2 separate regions of the Homo sapiens genome follow, and region 2 is linked to region 1. The links come from fine-mapping of genetic effects on gene expression. A gene starts in region 1. The other region holds a variant in brackets. All regions are shown on one strand. Distances are between the middles of the regions.

Evidence for each region.
Region 2: its variant is fine-mapped to the expression of MYLK4 in B cells (Schmiedel 2018, PIP 0.95). The same link has a PIP of 0.9 or more in Th1/17 cells and naive CD4 T cells.

What each region holds. Positions count from the first base shown.
Region 1 is chr6:2,747,481-2,756,384 of GRCh38, reverse strand. MYLK4 (myosin light chain kinase family member 4) reads left to right here and starts at 5,463. Exons shown (of 13, transcript NM_001012418.5): 1 at 5,463-5,649; 2 at 6,979-7,249. The coding sequence starts at 7,091. RefSeq lists a silencer at 3,596-3,890.
Region 2 is chr6:2,673,571-2,682,474 of GRCh38, reverse strand. MYLK4 (myosin light chain kinase family member 4) reads left to right here. Exons shown (of 13, transcript NM_001012418.5): 8 at 2,184-2,254; 9 at 3,067-3,195; 10 at 4,103-4,255; 11 at 7,350-7,428. Among named protein-coding and RNA genes, the nearest start is that of LINC01600, 43 kb to the right of the region's middle. The variant AC/C (reference allele first, on the strand shown) is at 3,763.

The DNA of each region.
Region 1 (8,904 bases):
AAATAATAATGACATATCAAAAGTACATAGGAGCCAGCTTGAAGGCACTTCCGTTGGCCAATATGGGACAATTTGAGCTTCAAAATAAAGAATATAGGGAGTGTATGTCCATTTTTAAAAGGCCATAAGCTCATCCTGATACTAAAGAGAGTGAGGTTCAGGATGGGGATGGAAAGCTCTTCTTTATAAAAGAATACCAATTAATAAGTATAGAAGAAATGGCAGAATTAGAAAATCATTTCACAGTCTCTGTGGTAATCATTGATTCTCAAGAATAGATACTGAGAAACGTTGGGTGATGCATTGTTGGGGAACATGATACCTATAAATTCCCACAAGTTATTTATCAATCACAAAAATAAAAGGGTTAGTTTTACATTTGAGAAGTCTGGTGGACACAACCTTAATCAGATCACCAAATTTAATATCACGAATAATGGCACAAACCGACATCATGTGCCACCTTTTGTGATGTTCTGAAAAAGATACAGTGTCACTTCTGTAGTTTTCATGCTCAGGTATAACCTGGTTCCAAGCATGAAGACACAATCAGGAAATTAGAATTGAGAGACATTTTATGAAACAATTTGTCCAAAGACTTCAAAAATATCAATGTCATGAAGGATTACAAAAAAGAGAGAGAGACTAGGAAGCCTCATCTCCACAAAAAATACAAAACTTAGCCTGGTGTGGTGGTGCCTGCCAATAGTCCCAGCTACTTGGAGGGCTGAGGCAGGAGGATCACTTGAGCCAAGGTCAAGGCTGCAGTGAGCTGTGTTCACGCCACTGCACTCCAGCACAAGCAACAGAGTGAGACCTTGTCTCAAAAAGTAAAATAAAATAAAATAAACGGAATGACCATTTCCTAAATAGATAAAAGGAGACTAAGAAGACATGGTGATTAAATGCGCTATGTAATTTTTGAGTAGATTCTGTTATGTGAGAAAGTGTCTTTTTTCTCAAGAAACATACACCAATTCATATAGGGGTAAAGTTTCATGAGATATGCATCTTACTCGCAAAAGAGAGAGAGAGGGCAAACATGGAAAATGCTAACATTTGGTGAATATGGGTGAAGGATGTATAGGTATTCATTGTACTATGCTTGCAAATATCCCTTAGAAAGTTTAAGGGATATAATTAAAGGAACAATTTGTGTAGCCACTGTAGAGGTAATAAACTGAAACTTTATGTAATATTTCTGAAAAATATTAATTTTTAAATGATCCAATCCATATTTTTATCTAATTTTTAAAACCTGTTTTATTTTCATTTTTGTATTTCGTAATACTTAGCTAATTGCTGTCACTTAGAAGTTTTAGTGGTCTAATATCAAAATTTCCTGTAAAGAAATCTGGATATTCCATAACATCATTATCTTTCTTGCTCAAAGTATCCTATCTCCAAGCAGAAAATAAAAGATAGAAATTACTTTTAAAATTACTATTAATTTTTCTATTAATTACAAAATCTTATATTGCATGATATTCATGCCAGGAGAAGAAAAGCGTGAGACTCTTAACTGTCTCCTGCTCACCATTCCTTTTCTTTGGCCCTAGGTGACCTGGCAAGTGTGGAATATAATTTATGTTTCCCTGGATCCCAGCCTTGGTCACTGGGGACAGATGACCACAAAGTGTTCAGTTTTTTCCTCTCCTTTTAACAAGCTACTTTTTGTTAATCATATTATTGGGTTTTCTTTTTCTTAATGACTCTATTGAAGTATAATTTACATATTATAAAATTCACCCATCTCAAGTGCACAATTCTGCATTGTTTTAAGAAACTGAATGAGTTGTACAGTCATCACTACCACACATCATCGGGTAAGATTCTGTTTACAATTAACCCCCATTCCTGCACCCAGCCCCCGGCAACCACCAGTCTGCTTTCTACGTCTATAGATTTGTCTTTTCTGAGCATTTTATACAAATGGAATCATACAATCTGTGCTCTATGTTTCTGGCTTTTTTTTTTCAATTAGCACAGTGTTTTCGCTCATCCATATTGTAGTAGATACCAGTATTTCATTCCTTTTAATTACGTAGTATTCCATTTGTATGTGTATACCACATTATCTTTTCCCAGTCTCCAAATCATCCGATGGACATTTTGGTTGTTTTCAGTTTTTGGCTATTGTGAATAATGCTGCTGTGAACATTCATGTGCCATGGTTTCTGTGTTCATATGTTTTCATTTCTCTTGGGTAGATACCTAGGAGAAGAATTTCTAGGTCATATGGGAAATAACTTTTTAAGAAATTGCCAACCTCTTTTATAAGACACCTGTATCATTTTATATTCCCATCAACATATTTGGTGAGGGTTCCAGTTTTTCCACATCCTTGTCAACACTTGCTTTTCTCTGTCTTTTTTTTTTTTTTTTTGGTAGAGATGGGGTCTTGCTATGTTGCCCAGGCTGGTCTCAAACTCCTGGACTGAAGTGATCCTCCTGTCTTGGCCTCCCAAAGTGCTAGGATTACAGGTGTGAGCCACCACACCCAACCTATCTTTTATTTTTTTCATTATTATTACAGCTCTCCTAGTGGGTGTGAAATGATGTTTCCTTGTGGTTTTAATTTGCATCTCCCTGATGACTGATTTTGAGCATTTTTTTTCATGTGCTTATTAACCATTTTTATATCTTCTTTGGTGAGGTCTGTTTTAATCTTTTGTCCATTTAAAAAACTGGAATGTTTTGTCATATATTATTAAGTTGTATATGCTAGATGCAGTCCTTTGTCAAATATGTGACTTCACAGTATTTTCTATACATCTGTAGCTGGTCTTTTCATTTTCATAATAGTGTCTTTTCATTTTCCTAATAGTGTTTTTTCAAAGGCAAACGTTTTGAATTTTGAAGAAGTGCAATTTATCAATCTTCGTTTTTATGGGTCGTATTCAGTGGTGATTTTTGAAAGTAAGGAAGTTCTATTGTAATGTGGGTAACAGGGATGCAGTAGCTTTTTATTTGCATTTGGGTATTTGTACTGTTGCTCCGCTTTTGTGTGTAAACATTCAAGAGGTCTTGTTCTGGAAACATTCAGAACGCTGTGTAGAAACAAAAACTCTTAGTGTAATCCAGCCGGGTTTCAATGCCAACCCGTAGACAAGAGCTGTCGACGATGTTTCTTCATGTGGCTCCTTTGACAACACAGTCTCTTACTCAGCTAATGGAAATGTCCCTTGAAAAAAATCAAGGGATTCTTTTCCATGGCTCTGTAGGGTGCTGTTTTCCTGATGTTGGTATTTTTTAGAGAAGTATAACTCCAAAATATGGAAATACTGGAAAAGTGTTCCTGGGCCTGCTCATATTCCTCACTAATGAATTTTTCCGGGTATAAGAGCATCTTTAAGCATGCAGAACATTTTATGGGTATGGACTTAGGATCCTGAGGCTAGGCTGATAGACCAGAATGAGTATGCATGTATAACCTGTTTTTTTGTGGTCAAGGGTTGTGCCAGCAGTGTGCTTGTCCTGTATGCCATCGGAAGCTGGGAACAGTGTGATGCAGCAGAACCAGACAATCAGTCACTTTTAGCATGGATTATTTTAATTGACTTGCTTTTTAGGGCAAGTAGACACAATTAAAGATCATTCTATCTAGTCATTAATCAAATATGTATTGAATGTATATTGTGCATGGAAATGTCTATATGTGGATGCCTTCCAAATTCTTATCTCCAGCCTACACCCCTCCCCGGAACTCCAGTTTCTATCTCCACAGCCTATTCAACTTGAACGTTTAATGGACTTGCCAAAGACTTCATGCCTGACCTTTCCCTCCAGAGTTGCCCTTCCCACAGCCGTCTCCATCTCAGTTAATGTTCACTCTGTCTTTCAAGTGCTCAGAAGAAAATATGCAAAGGTGTCTACCATCTTTCTTTCATACCCCATACCCAATCTATCATAAATCCTACTGATTCTAAATGTACTGTGGAATCCTGCATGGGATTCTGGAACAGAAAAGGGGCATTTGGGGAAAAAAAAAACCCAGCAACAATAAAGTATTGAGTTTAGTTAATAATAACGTTCACCATGGTTCATTAATTGTGACAAGTATACCATACCAACGTAAGATGTTAAAAACAGAGGATTCGGGGTGCAGGGCAAGGGGAACTCTGAACTACCTTTGCACCTTTTCTGTAGATGTAAAACTACTCTAAAAGGAAAAGTTTATTACAAAAAAATAAGCTAAGGAGCAGATTCTCCTGGCCTCTGGCTCACTCAAGCCTGTGGTTGGTTTGCTGGAGCCAACGAGATAGGAAGTCTGCTTTTGCGTGGTGGTGGTCCGGGTGGAGGATGTGGTTGGATCAGCAGCAGCCCACACACATCTTGCCTCTGGCAGGGCATTTGTTGCCTTATCAGTACTTCTACACAATTTAATTATACTAACAAAATTGGTAACCTCAAACCAGCTTAGTCTTTGTATAATACTTTTGTCAGATAATTTATCTCCACAAATTTATAGTTCCACTTCATTACTTTTGCTGAAGAACAAAGCTCTCCAATCTGAAAAATAACAAGCGTTTTGTGTTTTAAAAAAGATTTTGCTGTAATTCATTAATACTACATAAAATGGAAAAATATGTATTTTTATTTCACATGGAATGCATCGATCTGAATTAAAAATAAGGTTTTTTTTTTAAAAGAAGCAGAAGAGCAGCAGAGGCTGGTGTTAGAATGGGGCATAGAGGGGCTAACACAGGCTCCAAATAAGAGGTGACAATTGGCCAGGCCCTGAAAAATTGCAGGGTTTTCAAGACTGCAAAGTCCAGCCTCTGGGCAATCAAAGTTTTATGCCACTTCAGTGAATCTAGGGATGCACTACTGTGAGAGTCGGGCAGGTGGGTTGAAATTCCCCTTTCTTGGTCTGTGCAGAAAACTACGGATGAAGTCCTAGTGTTGCTTAAGGAGAATTTATGAAAAATTTATTCCTGTTTCCTGGATGCCTGTGCCTTTGACCTTTCCCTAGAGCTAGAAATGGTTGGAGACTTTGCAAACATCTTTAAGAACTGAGAAAAATAAAACAAACTTGCTAACTGCTTTCAGAAGATCTTCTATATTGCAGTTGGATATGCTCAAAGCGTAAGATGGGCAAACAGAGGTGGCTGTGGGGTTGCCACACCTGGCATTTTCCCTACTGGGGGAAATTTAATGAGCACTTAAATAATCCTGAGTCTGAAAGGGGCAGAAGGTCCAGGCAGATGATTGCCGAGGACAAATCTAGCTTTGTAAATCCGAGAGTATTGACACAATGATACGAGGGAAAGGTGAAGGTGATATTTCATCCAGTGTTCCCGGTTCATCCTCTCCTTACCTGACCTCTGAAATGGAGCCATTGGCCTTGAAAAGCCTGGTGTCTAAAATTAATATTCTTCCCCATCTGACTAAGAAGGCAACAGCTGAGCAACGTGAGATCAAGAGCCATATTAATTTAAACAGGGGCTGAAAGTGGCATTTGAGAGAGAAGATACTTCCTCTCGTAGTGGACACTTGTCTTTTCAGAAGATTTATACGACTGAGAGTCAAAACTTTTACCAGAGACTTTCATAGTCAGTTTGAATTCTGCAAAATTTCTCTTTATCTTCTGGAATGTATGCTCTAGACTTGGAGTGGCTCAAGCTCTTCGATGTGATCCTATCAATGGTAATTATCTTTGTTTATTGTTATAACCTCTCAAATCTCCTCCCCTTTTTTCTAAGTTACCTTCAATAACAAATTGTACCAAACTTCAGGTAGAGCTTAATGTTTAATATTTCTTTGCAAAATTATTGTATCTTAATCCTAAGCTTTTGTTTTAATACATTAATTTTGTGTGGCTTCCTGATCCAACTTGAGTTTCATCTGCAATTAACCATAGTATTTTAGTCGTAGTTTGCCTTAGAAATAGCCATGCATTTGTTTCCTTATTTTAATAATTTTTTCAGGGCAATTTGAAAGAATGCTAAGAATGATCTGTAATATATCTGTAGAGCTCTGGTTGATAGTATTAATATTTGCATTTTTATTTGTTTGAATGTAAGCTCTTTATGTGGATAAGTATAATTTGTTAGAGCAGTGAATTTTAAACACTTTGGAACTCAAGAGTATCATTTTACTATAGGAACTGACAAAACAAAATATTAAGTTTTCTGATGAGAATCACAATACGGTTTTTAAGCGGAGAAAATGCTCGAAGAGGCGCTTTTCGGAAAATCTCCACCAGGGGGCCTCAGTTGTCAGCCATGCGGAACTAGCACAAATTCAAATGTCTCTCCCTCTCCCTGCCTCTCTATGCAATCAAGTGATGTGTACATATAGACATGCGTATATGTCTCTAGTATCAAAGCGAATTATGTATGCTGCATTACTTCATTTGCGAGGAAAGTATTTTAAGGAGAGTGAAAAGACTCTGAACTTCTCGGTACATAGCTGTTAATGCAGATGCAAGGAAAGGTATCTGGGAGTGCTGTCCACGTGAGAAGACTGTAAGGAAATAAATTTCTTTTCACAAATAAACACCACACATTTTAAGGCATAGGTAGAGAAGAGTTCTGGAAAAGGACTCATTCGGGAGCGATCCCTCTGCAGAGGGAGGCCAGGGGAAGCAGAGAGACCCCTTCTGTGATAAGCCCTTCCCACGGGGCTGCAAAACCTGCGGTTCCAATTAAACCCAAAGATACTTTATAATTTACATCCAAGCTGGCCACTTGATCTACGGCTTGTTTTGTGCAATAAGGAGCATATTTCATCACCAGTGAATCTTGACATTGCTTCTTACTGTTTGCTTTTGTAGTTTTAAAGTGAAAAAATTTTTTTTCCTTTTAAAGTTCCAATGTTGGAAACTCAATATGAATGTTAGTATTTCTTTTCCTGATTTTGGATCCTCTCTCCAGTTTAAACAGAAGGGACTTCCAAATTCTCACTGGTCATTTTCTCAAGAAGTCAAATGCATGAATACGTGATGAGAACTTTTTGTGTTTCCTTTCTTTGCAGTCAAGAGAAAGAAGCACTGAAGAGTCATAATTGTGTCCTGATTTATAAATCGGAGACAGAGGGAGACGAAAACCACACTCCAGAAAGTAGCTTAATCGGACTCACTACTAAGATGTTAAAAGTGAAGAGGCTGGAAGAATTCAACACGTGTTATAACAGCAACCAGCTGGAGAAAATGGCCTTTTTTCAGTGCAGGGAAGAGGTGGAGAAAGTGAAGTGTTTTCTGGAAAAAAATTCTGGGGACCAGGATTCAAGATCTGGACATAATGAGGTAATCATGTTCTAATTTAGTCTCCTAAAAAGTATTCATTCTATCTTATCTTTTCTAATGTCATGGAGCCGCTTGTGAGTACAATTAAGGAAAGTTTATGAATAGGCATCATTCCACTTTGCTTCAGTGAGAATTGTGTGTGTCGACTATACAATTGTGTTTGGTAAATAATTAGGAGGCCTTTGAAACTGCATTTCTGCCAGCAGTCGACTTCACTTTTAGTTAGTGGCTTAGGAGTTATACAGCCAGCTTGCAGAAATGAAGAAGAATCCTTTAGCATGATGGATTTGGGCTTGAAATTCAGAAAAGGGCTCTGAGAGGCACACTGTTCTGCAGAAAGAAGTTTCTCCTTTTTCCTTCAGATCTTGAGTTCCTCACGCGGTAGACAGCAGAGCTGTTGATAGTGAAGTCCAGAGAAGGGACAAGAAAGACTTGCTGATGGCACGACGGTGGGGCTTGTACCCTCCTCTGTGCAGAACGAGAGTTCTGAGCCCCATTCCAGCTGCTCGTTCTTGGGAAAAATATTAATTTAACCAAGGGCTTGCCACATCTGAATTAGTGAGATAATAGCAATTGTGAAAATTAAGTGTGATCACGTCTGTAAAGCACTCCGCCTAGTATCTGTCACTAGAGTCAGCATTTAATATGTGTTAGCGGCAGCAGCAATTACCTCCCCTGCCTTGGCCCAGTCAGTTCCTGCCCATCATCCGTTGGCTCCTTGCCCGGTGGGAGCATCAAGCATTTTGCCCGTGCCTTCATTCCAGCACATGTGGTGGTTTTGAACATGTTGATCACCTTTCTCTAGACAAGGCTCCTTAAGGTTGGGAAACCTCGTGTTATTTGTTCATGTTTCCTCAGTTGCTTTCCTAGTAACGGAAACAAATAGGCACCAAAAGTGTTTTTGGAATGCACAGATCTATTTAAGTGAATTCTGGTTGAGGGCTGGGAACCATTATTTTTGATAATCAGAGCAAGTGATTCTTATCAGGCAGGTTTGGAAAACATCCTTCTTTGCCCAGCTACTGTTCTAAAAAACACTATTCAGGTAGGAAGGGCGTTTCTAACAATGCAATAGACAATGAAATAGAGAGATTGTATATAAAAGGTCTAGGAGGCTTTTTATTGTAAGTGAATAAGAAATGACAAAATGTGCTGGAGAGAATAAATGAATCAGATTGAAACATTTTTTTGAGACCTCTGCTTTCCCCATGAGTTCAATATAGACCAAGGAGAAATATCTACAGGCAAAATTAAGTGAGACATGACTTTCTCATTAGGGTTTTCAGTGGTACAAACAGGATAATTTTTTCTGTTTATTAATTTCGGTAGGACAGAGAAGACAAAATATTCTTCTTGGAGAACTTTGAAATCATCAACTAACTGTAATAGTTTATATGAATTTCATTATCTTTCAAGTACTGTTTTTCTCCAAAATCTATGATACAATTTTTATAAATGGGCAACACTCTAAAGAGTGAGATAAGCAGGACACATGGCTCATACCTGTAATCCCAGCACTTTGGGAGGCTGGGGCAAGAGAATCACTGGAGGCCAGGAGTTTGAGACCAGCCCAGGTGACATGGTGAGATGTCTATTTCTACAAAAATAAAAAAATACAAATAAAATAGCGGGCATGGTGGCACACATCTGTAGTC
Region 2 (8,904 bases), 74 kb after region 1:
GGGGTGGGCACCCCACTGCCAATGGTGGAAAGCACACAGAAGCCAAGCCGCCTTTCTTTCTCCTCCTATTGATTGCCCCTTCCCTCTTTACCTCTCTCATGTCTCATTATGAAGTTCCTAGAATCGGACTGTATGTAGTCTTAGTTACAACCAATAAAAGACCTAGGCCCAACAACCCTGATCAAGTCCCATATTGGGACTAAGTATCATAAAGTACGTCTTGTGTGGCTTGGTCATTTTCTCATTTCCCTGTTTGCACAGCGTGACAGTAACATAAAATATACAATCTATATAACATCCCATCTATTGCATTCACTAGGGATTGCATAGCTAAATAAATTTAGCCTCCTGAAATAGGTTTCCATGGGCCTCTCTTCCTATAACTTGGCTTCCCTCACTGTCTTGATTTATGTGCCTTGCCTTTCCCATTCACTTTTGAGCAGGAGGAGAGCAGGAGGAAGTGGTTTATAAAATGACAAAGTCAGAGGCTAAAAATCATTAGCAAAACCCTCACTATGAACTGAGTTTGATAATGCATGCTTTCATGGAGCATTTTCATTGAATGTAGATATTCTGCAGATATCCCTACAGGGATTTGATTGGCAACTGGAACTAGGAGCAAACCTATTGTAAGTCAAATGACTCCATATGAGGCTTCATAACATTGATTGAGGACCTGCAGTGGGCAGTTTTAGTTATGGCTTGGATGCAGAGATCATCATAAAGGTGACAGCTGGATGGGTCCTTAAGGAGCTGCTTTTCTGAAAGCTCCTTGGAAGGAAAAGGGCCAAAAATATTGAGTGATTGTCAGTATGTGGGGGGAGATTATAGGTGACTTACAAACAGTCTGTTTTATATTTTTCTGTTTTGCAAAATTTATCCAATGAACATTGTTTAATTTTATCGTCATAAAAAGGCTAACTTATTGAAATGCCCTCAAAACGGTTTCTCTATATCCTGCAAACTTTTTGATGCCACAGTACTCCTTCACAATTGGACAGCTTTATACATGATCCATCAGTGATTTAAGCATGAAACCAAATGGTTCACGTAGCACCCCCTTCTCTATAATGACTTTTACTCACAAACATCTGTTTTAGAGATAGTTTAGAAAAGGGCTTCCAAAGATATTCTGCCCAACCAAATGTACTATTGAATATTGATAAGGAGACATTATGTCATTTCATAATGTGTTTCTGAATTTCTGATCTCATTGGAACCTCTTCTCCACCTGGACAGGTTGGGGAGGGGAGCCTGATCCCACTAAAGGCTGAGGAACGGGATCCTGGGCATTTGGCTTCTGGGATGGTGCCCTCCAGCTTGTAAAGAATTGGGACTGAGGGTTCTTAACTCTGAAAACTTTTTTTCTCTTTTATAAATGGCCTTGACTTTAAATCAAATCTCTTACTTTCCCAAGACCTCTGTTTTTCTACCCCAGTAAACATTAGGTGCACTTGTAAGGCATTCTGTGAACACTGAGTGGCTGCACTACACCCCATTTTCTCCCCCTGCACCCCAAGACTGTCAGGTCAGCAGGCTAAGGTCTTACCAGGGCCTAGCTCCAAGGGAACACTTAGTCAGGGGTTTTAGGCATTGAGACCAAACTCAGCAAAACCTTGGAACTGCTGAGACTGAAGAACGACTGGAGAGAAAAGCCCTCCTCTGCCGTGCGACTTTCCCATAGGCGTTGAGCAAAGGGAAGCTCTGGAGGCCGGAACGTTCACGTGACAGTGCATGTTCAGTGTGGCTGTTTGAATGGAGCAGGTCAATTCCCTTGGAACTCATCAATCTTGGGAAAAATATTTCTCCAAGAAGGGGAAATTCATACTGAATAATTTAGAGGGGCAGATGTCAGGCCTGAGCGGGCCTCCACAGCACATTTGGGAAGGACTGAAGCAACCTCCTTTTCTTGCTCCCCTCAAGGCCTCTGCCTGAACTCAGGCATTATGGTGAACTGTGAAGCCGTGCAGAGGACAGGCTGGATAATGCAGGGTTGGCAGGATACCCGCAACCTCATCCACCACATAATTAAAGGAGAAAGTACCCACACGGACAAGCCCGCCCCGAAGTGAAAGGCCTGATATGTTTTTTCTGAGCATCGTTGTATTTTTAGTTGTGGTTCAAGGACAATTTGAGTGAATGATGGTTGTTTTCATTGCTAATGTGTCTCTTTCTCCTGGCAGCCTGAGAATATCCTGTGTGTGAATCGGGATGCTAAGCAAATAAAAATTATTGATTTTGGATTGGCCAGAAGGTATGTCTATTTGGACATAGGTGTACGAATGGAGCTGGGGGACATGATGGTTGCCCTTCCTTTGCAAACATATATCTGATCTGCTCTTTGGTTTCATGATCTCATTTATAATTAATTTAACAAAAATTATGTTTGGCCTTAACTTGCTAAATTTGAGACTTGAGTGTTTAGAAGTTTCTATAATGCATGCAGTAAAAAGTATAAAAAATTAAAACCTAATACAGTGAAGTTTATTAAATTAGAAGCCATTAATTTAGCATTTGCAAGAGTTTGTCCCCTCTTTCATATTTGATCCATCTGTACAGAGAAGATTTACTTTAAAAATATTAACAACGTAAGCAAGTTTGCAAAGGGTTCTGGCACATAAAAGATTCTTCAGGGAACAAAGAGTTTACGTGGACACATTAACAATTCAGCACATTAACGACACATATAAAATGGATGTTGTAAATTATTGCAGTACTGTGTTTATTCATTTTACAGGCTTATTCACATCATCCCCATGTCAATGACTATATCAGTTTTCCTCTTGTCATCTTCTGTAATTCAGATGTTCTCATTATTCACAGCAGCTTCTCCAACAACTGGTTCAGCTTTTAAGGTTTCCTAGTATGAATTTTGACTTTTAAATTTTCTGGGGCCTCTTTACAAGTTTTTGAGCCTCTTGCTTGATTGTTTGATTTCCTTCAATGTTTGTTTGTCTGAAGTTTGCTGTATGGCTGAAGTCATTTTGTCTCATAGACTACATCATTTCAGTGTTCACGATTTTTGATCGACACGTCCATCCTTCCACTTTGTCTCTTAAATTGCAGATACAAACCCAGAGAGAAGCTGAAGGTGAACTTTGGAACCCCAGAATTTCTCGCCCCTGAAGTTGTGAACTATGATTTTGTTTCATTTCCCACTGACATGTGGAGTGTGGGGGTCATCGCCTATATGCTGTGAGTAGCTCTCCTCTGTCTCTGACCCTTCTCCAACTCCATGCATATTTTCTGAGGTTTTGCCGTTTTAAATAAAAGCCCCAATTGGGGTATTTAAAAAATAAATAACACTGTCCCATCCTCAGTTGCCTTCTAGGTTTTGTTGACTCCTGTGGGTGAAAGGAGTGAATTCTTTCCCTGCACATCATTTGGAAAAGTAAATGTGTGTCCTCTTCATTAATCACTTTAACTCCTAGGACACAACCTAAAAGCCAAAAATTAATTTAAAAAGCTCACATGGCCTGGCGCGGTGGCTCAAGCCTGTAATCCCAGCACTTTGGGAGGCTGAGGTGGGCGGATCACGAGGTCAAGAGATTGAGACCATCCTGGCCAACATGGTGAAACCCCATCTCTACTAAAAATACAAAAATCAGCCGTGCGTGGTGGCATGCACCTGTAATCCCAGCTACTCGGGAGGCTGCAGGAGAATTGCTTCCAGGAGGTGGAGGTTGCAGTGAAACGAGATCACGCCACTGCACTCCAGCCTGGTGACACAGCGAGACTCCGTCTCAAAAAAAAAAAAAAAAA[AC/C]TGATCTCCTAAATGACTCAGGCTAGCCTCACCCCTCAGAGGTGACATGCCTAGCGTTTGCCATCTGAGCATGTAGTAGCACTTTGCAAGCTGAAAAGTGCTTTAAAAAGGAAGCTGATATTCATATTCATATTCTGTTATTGCTGCAGTTGTTCAGTTAGGAGTTGGGTGGGGGCGGCAAGCATTTTCTTGATTACAATAATATGTTATAAAATTATGCTTCAGGATTAGGTTATTTTCCTTCTCTCACCTTTAAATGGCACAACCAGAAAAGCAATCTGTATGGAAAGGGGTTGAGGCTGTTTAAAAAATACTCACTCTGGACCCCGTGTCCTCCAGACTTAGCGGTTTGTCGCCTTTCCTGGGTGACAATGATGCTGAGACGCTGAACAACATCCTGGCCTGCAGGTGGGACTTAGAGGATGAAGAATTTCAGGACATCTCGGAGGAGGCCAAGGAGTTCATCTCTAAGCTTCTGATTAAGGAGAAGAGGTAACGCAAGTTCGTCCTGTGCTCCGGGCGCAGTAGGGATGATAAGGAAGCAGGGCCTACCACCAGGGCTGTTCGAATTTATTCTCTTACTAACATCTGTGATGCTTGCGCAAAGTCATGGATAGAATGAGGTTTGAGCCTCTTGACCCAGTCTACTGAGATCTGGGACTGCTTTGGTCATGAAGCTACACAAACCTTTCTCTTCCTGCCATTTATCATATGGCCATACCAGCCATGGACTCCTGCTGGGCCTTAGTTGACTCACTGTCAAAATGGAAGGCTTGGGAGAAGTATTTCTAGGATTCCTTTCACCTCTACTAAGCTGTATATGGTTCCGTGTAGCTGAATCTTTAACTACCATTTCATTTGGGAAACTACTGTGGGCCAGATCATGCCAAGTGCTTTGTAGACATTATCTCTTTTAACTACCACCCCTGACCCCAACTCCATGAGGCAGAAATCGGGTAGAAGATCCCACGTGGTTTGCCCATCATCATACCGCCAGTAATTGGCAGAACAGAGGCTCAAACAGATAGTTCTCCTTCCCCAACGGCCGCACACTTGGCTGTTATTTATTACATGGCCCTCTATTTTCTGTTATGCTAAAACCACATTAATTCAAAATTCAGTGAATGAAAAAGAGTGACATTGAAATATAGGGATTTGCATTTTAGAATCATAGAAGGGGAAGGGCATTGTGATTAACCCATCAAACACGCTGTTTCAGATGGCTTTATACCTGAGCCGTATAATGATTGAAGTAGTTAAGGTTTTCAGGGTCAATAGCACTTGCCTTATCGTTTTATTATCTTTATGGCTTTAAAGTCACTAATACACATGGCTGTGGATCAACAGGTAGAAGGGTGTCACAGGGAGTGGGGAAACAGTGTGGGCAGTGGGTCTGGCACACAGCTTGGCAGGAGATGCTTTCATTCAAGTGTTGATCACCTACTGTGTGCCAGGAAATGTGTCATGTGCTAAGAATAGAGGCACAAATCCAGTCCCTGCCTATAGTAACTCACCATCTAATAAAAGGGATAGATATTTTTTAAAAAGATGTAATAAAATGTGGTTAACACAAAGATAAGGCCATCCTTAGAGGATGAAGAGAACCTAGCCAGGCTAGGGGTATCAGTCCGACAGGAGGGACAATTCACAAATAATGGATTAATAATAATAATAACCTTGGCTAGTATTGTGCCTTGATGGAAAGGCACAATAACAGCCAAGGTTATTATTATGAGCACATTACTCTACCCAAGGCAGTGAACAGATGGAAACTGTCAACCCTTTCAAATCTTTGGAGGACGAGAAGTCCACATTTACTGTGAACCTGTTTTACATGTGTACTTTCATGTGTTATCTTATTTGGCTTCTGGATAATCCTGTGGTCTGTGGAGACCATCATTTTACACATGGGGAAACTGAGGCTGAGAGCAGTGCTGCAGTCACACGGCTATCTCAGAGCAGATGCAGAGGTGGGCCCAGTGGGCTCCAGTGCCGCTCACTCCTTCAGTCTGAGGGCTTCATGAATGCCCAAGGAGCATCAGATGCCCATTTGGGCCGATGGCAACTGGCTTAGAATTCCAGTCAATGCTTGGATGAAACTAAAGCCAAAAGCCAAACACCACTATCATAGAATAAATTTCTGGGGTACAGAAATAAACTTGAAATGTTATTAAGTTTAATTATTAGTACAATGTTATTGTTAACTTTTTAATAGCCAGATTTAAGAAGTTCGACACTAGAGTACAGAATCATCATTTTTCACCTTGGTCAGCCATTGGAATGCTCTGGAGATCCAGTACTGAAAATTTATGACACTAAGCAGAACCACACTTCCAACTGAGGTTGATGGAGGTCACGAGGTTTTTAAAAATTACCTCTGCCTGTTTTTGGCACTATAATGGTGATGTTGTCACCAAGTTCATTGATGTAATAAAGACTTATCTCCTCTTCAAATCTTATACTTAAATATTTTGGTATCTGATGAAGCGATTGCATTGAAGCAATCCTACAAACTGAAGCTTCATTACTGCTTGAAACTGCCTCTTTGACTTCAGATTGTTACATTCACTTACAGGTTTTTTGTTTGTTTGTTTGTTTTTTCATTTTTTTTTTTTTTTTTGAGACAGAATCTCACACTGTCACCTAGGCTGGTGTGCAATGGCACGATCTTGGCTCAATGCAACCTCCACCTCCTGGGTTCACGTGATTCTCCTTCCTCAGCCTCCTGAGTAGCTGGGATTACAGGTGTGCCCCACCACACCCAGCTAATTTTTTGTATTTTTAGTAGAGACGGGGTTTCACTATTTTGGCCAGACTGGTCTTGAACTCCTGATTTCGTGATCCACCCGCCTCGGCCTCCCAAAGTGCTGGGATTACAGGCATGAGCCATTGCACCTGGCCTACAGTTTTTATTTTGAAAGGTTATTTGTTTTAATGTGATAAATGTTAGCACATCAAACAAATGTATAGAACTTAGAATTTAAATATGGTAAATCTATATTATTCTTCCTCATATTATTTCCCAAAATCTTATAAACCTTTGCTGGCTCCAAAAGGATATTGTTTCTTCATAAAAGTATCTAATGGTCCCTCTCTTAATAATTACATCGACTCTATTTCCCTACCTATTTAACTCAAAACTTCTCAATTCAAAAGTTAGTAATATTTATTATTCAAAAGTTTTAATACACAAATTGCTTTGGCAATCATCAAGAATCATTGTAGCATTTTGTTCTTACAATAATAAATATATATTTATTTTTCAACTGACTGATAGGAATCCACTTTACTAAGCTCAGATGTTATACTACAGAAATGGTTACTTATATTTGAAAGTAAATGTTCAGTTATTAACAAGAATTTTTATTATTTGCCTTGTTTGTCTTTACTAATGTTATCCTGATTGGATTCGATAGTCACCTATGCCATCATTGATAGCACACAATTCAAGAGAAGGCAGAATTGACCATGAGTTGACATTCGGCCATCTGGTCTCCCGAAGGCAGAAGCTGGAGTTGAGATTGAACAGCAGATACAGGCCTTCTTCGGTGTGTTTCTACTAATCACCTTCTGAATTTCCTTCTAGTTGGCGAATAAGTGCAAGCGAAGCTCTCAAGCACCCCTGGTTGTCAGACCACAAGCTCCACTCCAGACTCAATGCCCAGGTGACCACGGCTTCTTGCTCTTCCTCTTTTTCTCCTGTCTGCCTGTCTTTTGAAGATCAGATGCTGGAGTCATCTTAACCTTAAATAAGATTCTTTCTCATTCTTTTTCTCACAGACTGCAAATCTTGTGCAGTATTAAATTACTTAAAATGCTTTTTTAAAAAAAATTTTTTTTGAGGCAAAATTTCACTCTCGTTGCCCAAACTAGAGTGCAATGGCACGATCTCAGCTCACTGCAACGTCCACCTCCCTGGTTCAAGCGATTCTCCTGCCTCAGTCTCACAGGTAGCTGGGATTACAGGCGTGTGCCACCATGCCTGGCTAATTTTGTAGTTTTAGTGGAAACAGAGTTTCACCATGTTGGTCAGGCTGGTCTCAAACCCCTGACCTCGTGATCCACCCACCTTGGCCTCCCATAGTGCTGGGATTACAGGCCTGAGCCACTGCACCCGGCCTTAAAATGCTTTTTTGAGCAGTTTACATTTTAAAAATAATGTATTTGTTGTTTAACAGAGTATTTTCAGCATAACTGTTTATTATTAAATTATTGTATCCATTATAAAATGAATTACTTCATTGTCTTATGTGCACATACATACACACATATAACCTATAAACATATAAAGTTCTGGAGAATATATAGTAATGTTCATTCAGGAGAAATATGCCTCCTTAAAACAGAATTCAGAATTCTAAATTCTGTGCTCACCTGGCTTGATCTGCTCTGGGCACCAAATCTTAACTCTAATACTCAGCTTAGTCCGGGTATCTATACAAGTCTATGTGTGGGAGACTCTTAGACTACAGACTGAGTATTGTGAATAACCTAGCCCACTCTCTGTAATAACTTCTTACAATGAAATCTTCACCTACTCTCATTGCCTTAATTACCAGATGTTTATATTCCGACTTCCTCATCTGTCTCTTTGGCACAGATATCTTTCCTAAGCTGCAGATCCATATGTCCATCTGTGTACTAGATGTTTCCACCAGGATCTTCCCATCCCTAAACTAATCTCATCTCCCTGCCCCTTGCCTCACCATCAGTGATCCTCTTAGGGAAGGATGCCCATGGAGCGGCCCCAGCCAGCCCCCGTACATCTTCTTTGCTTCCTTCCTCTCCCTCGAGCCCCCATCTCATGTTTAATTTACCTCCATGTTGTGTACATGATATCCCCTAATTACCTCTGGAAGCTGTCTGTTTCTCTCCATTCCCATGGTGACCGTGGCCTGGGACATGCCTCCCCTGAGTGACTGCAGCCTCCTAACTGGCTTCTCTGCCTCCTTCATGTTGTCTCCATCCAAATAATTGTGGATTATATAATTAACACAGAAACAGATGTGTAATGCCCAAGTAACTTTACTGAACATCTAGGATGTTCAACTGGCAAGATGCATATACAGGCAAGACGCCATGCCAACCTTTGGGCCCACCAGGACCTGTCTGATGTACCTATCAGTTAGGGTGGCTGGTGC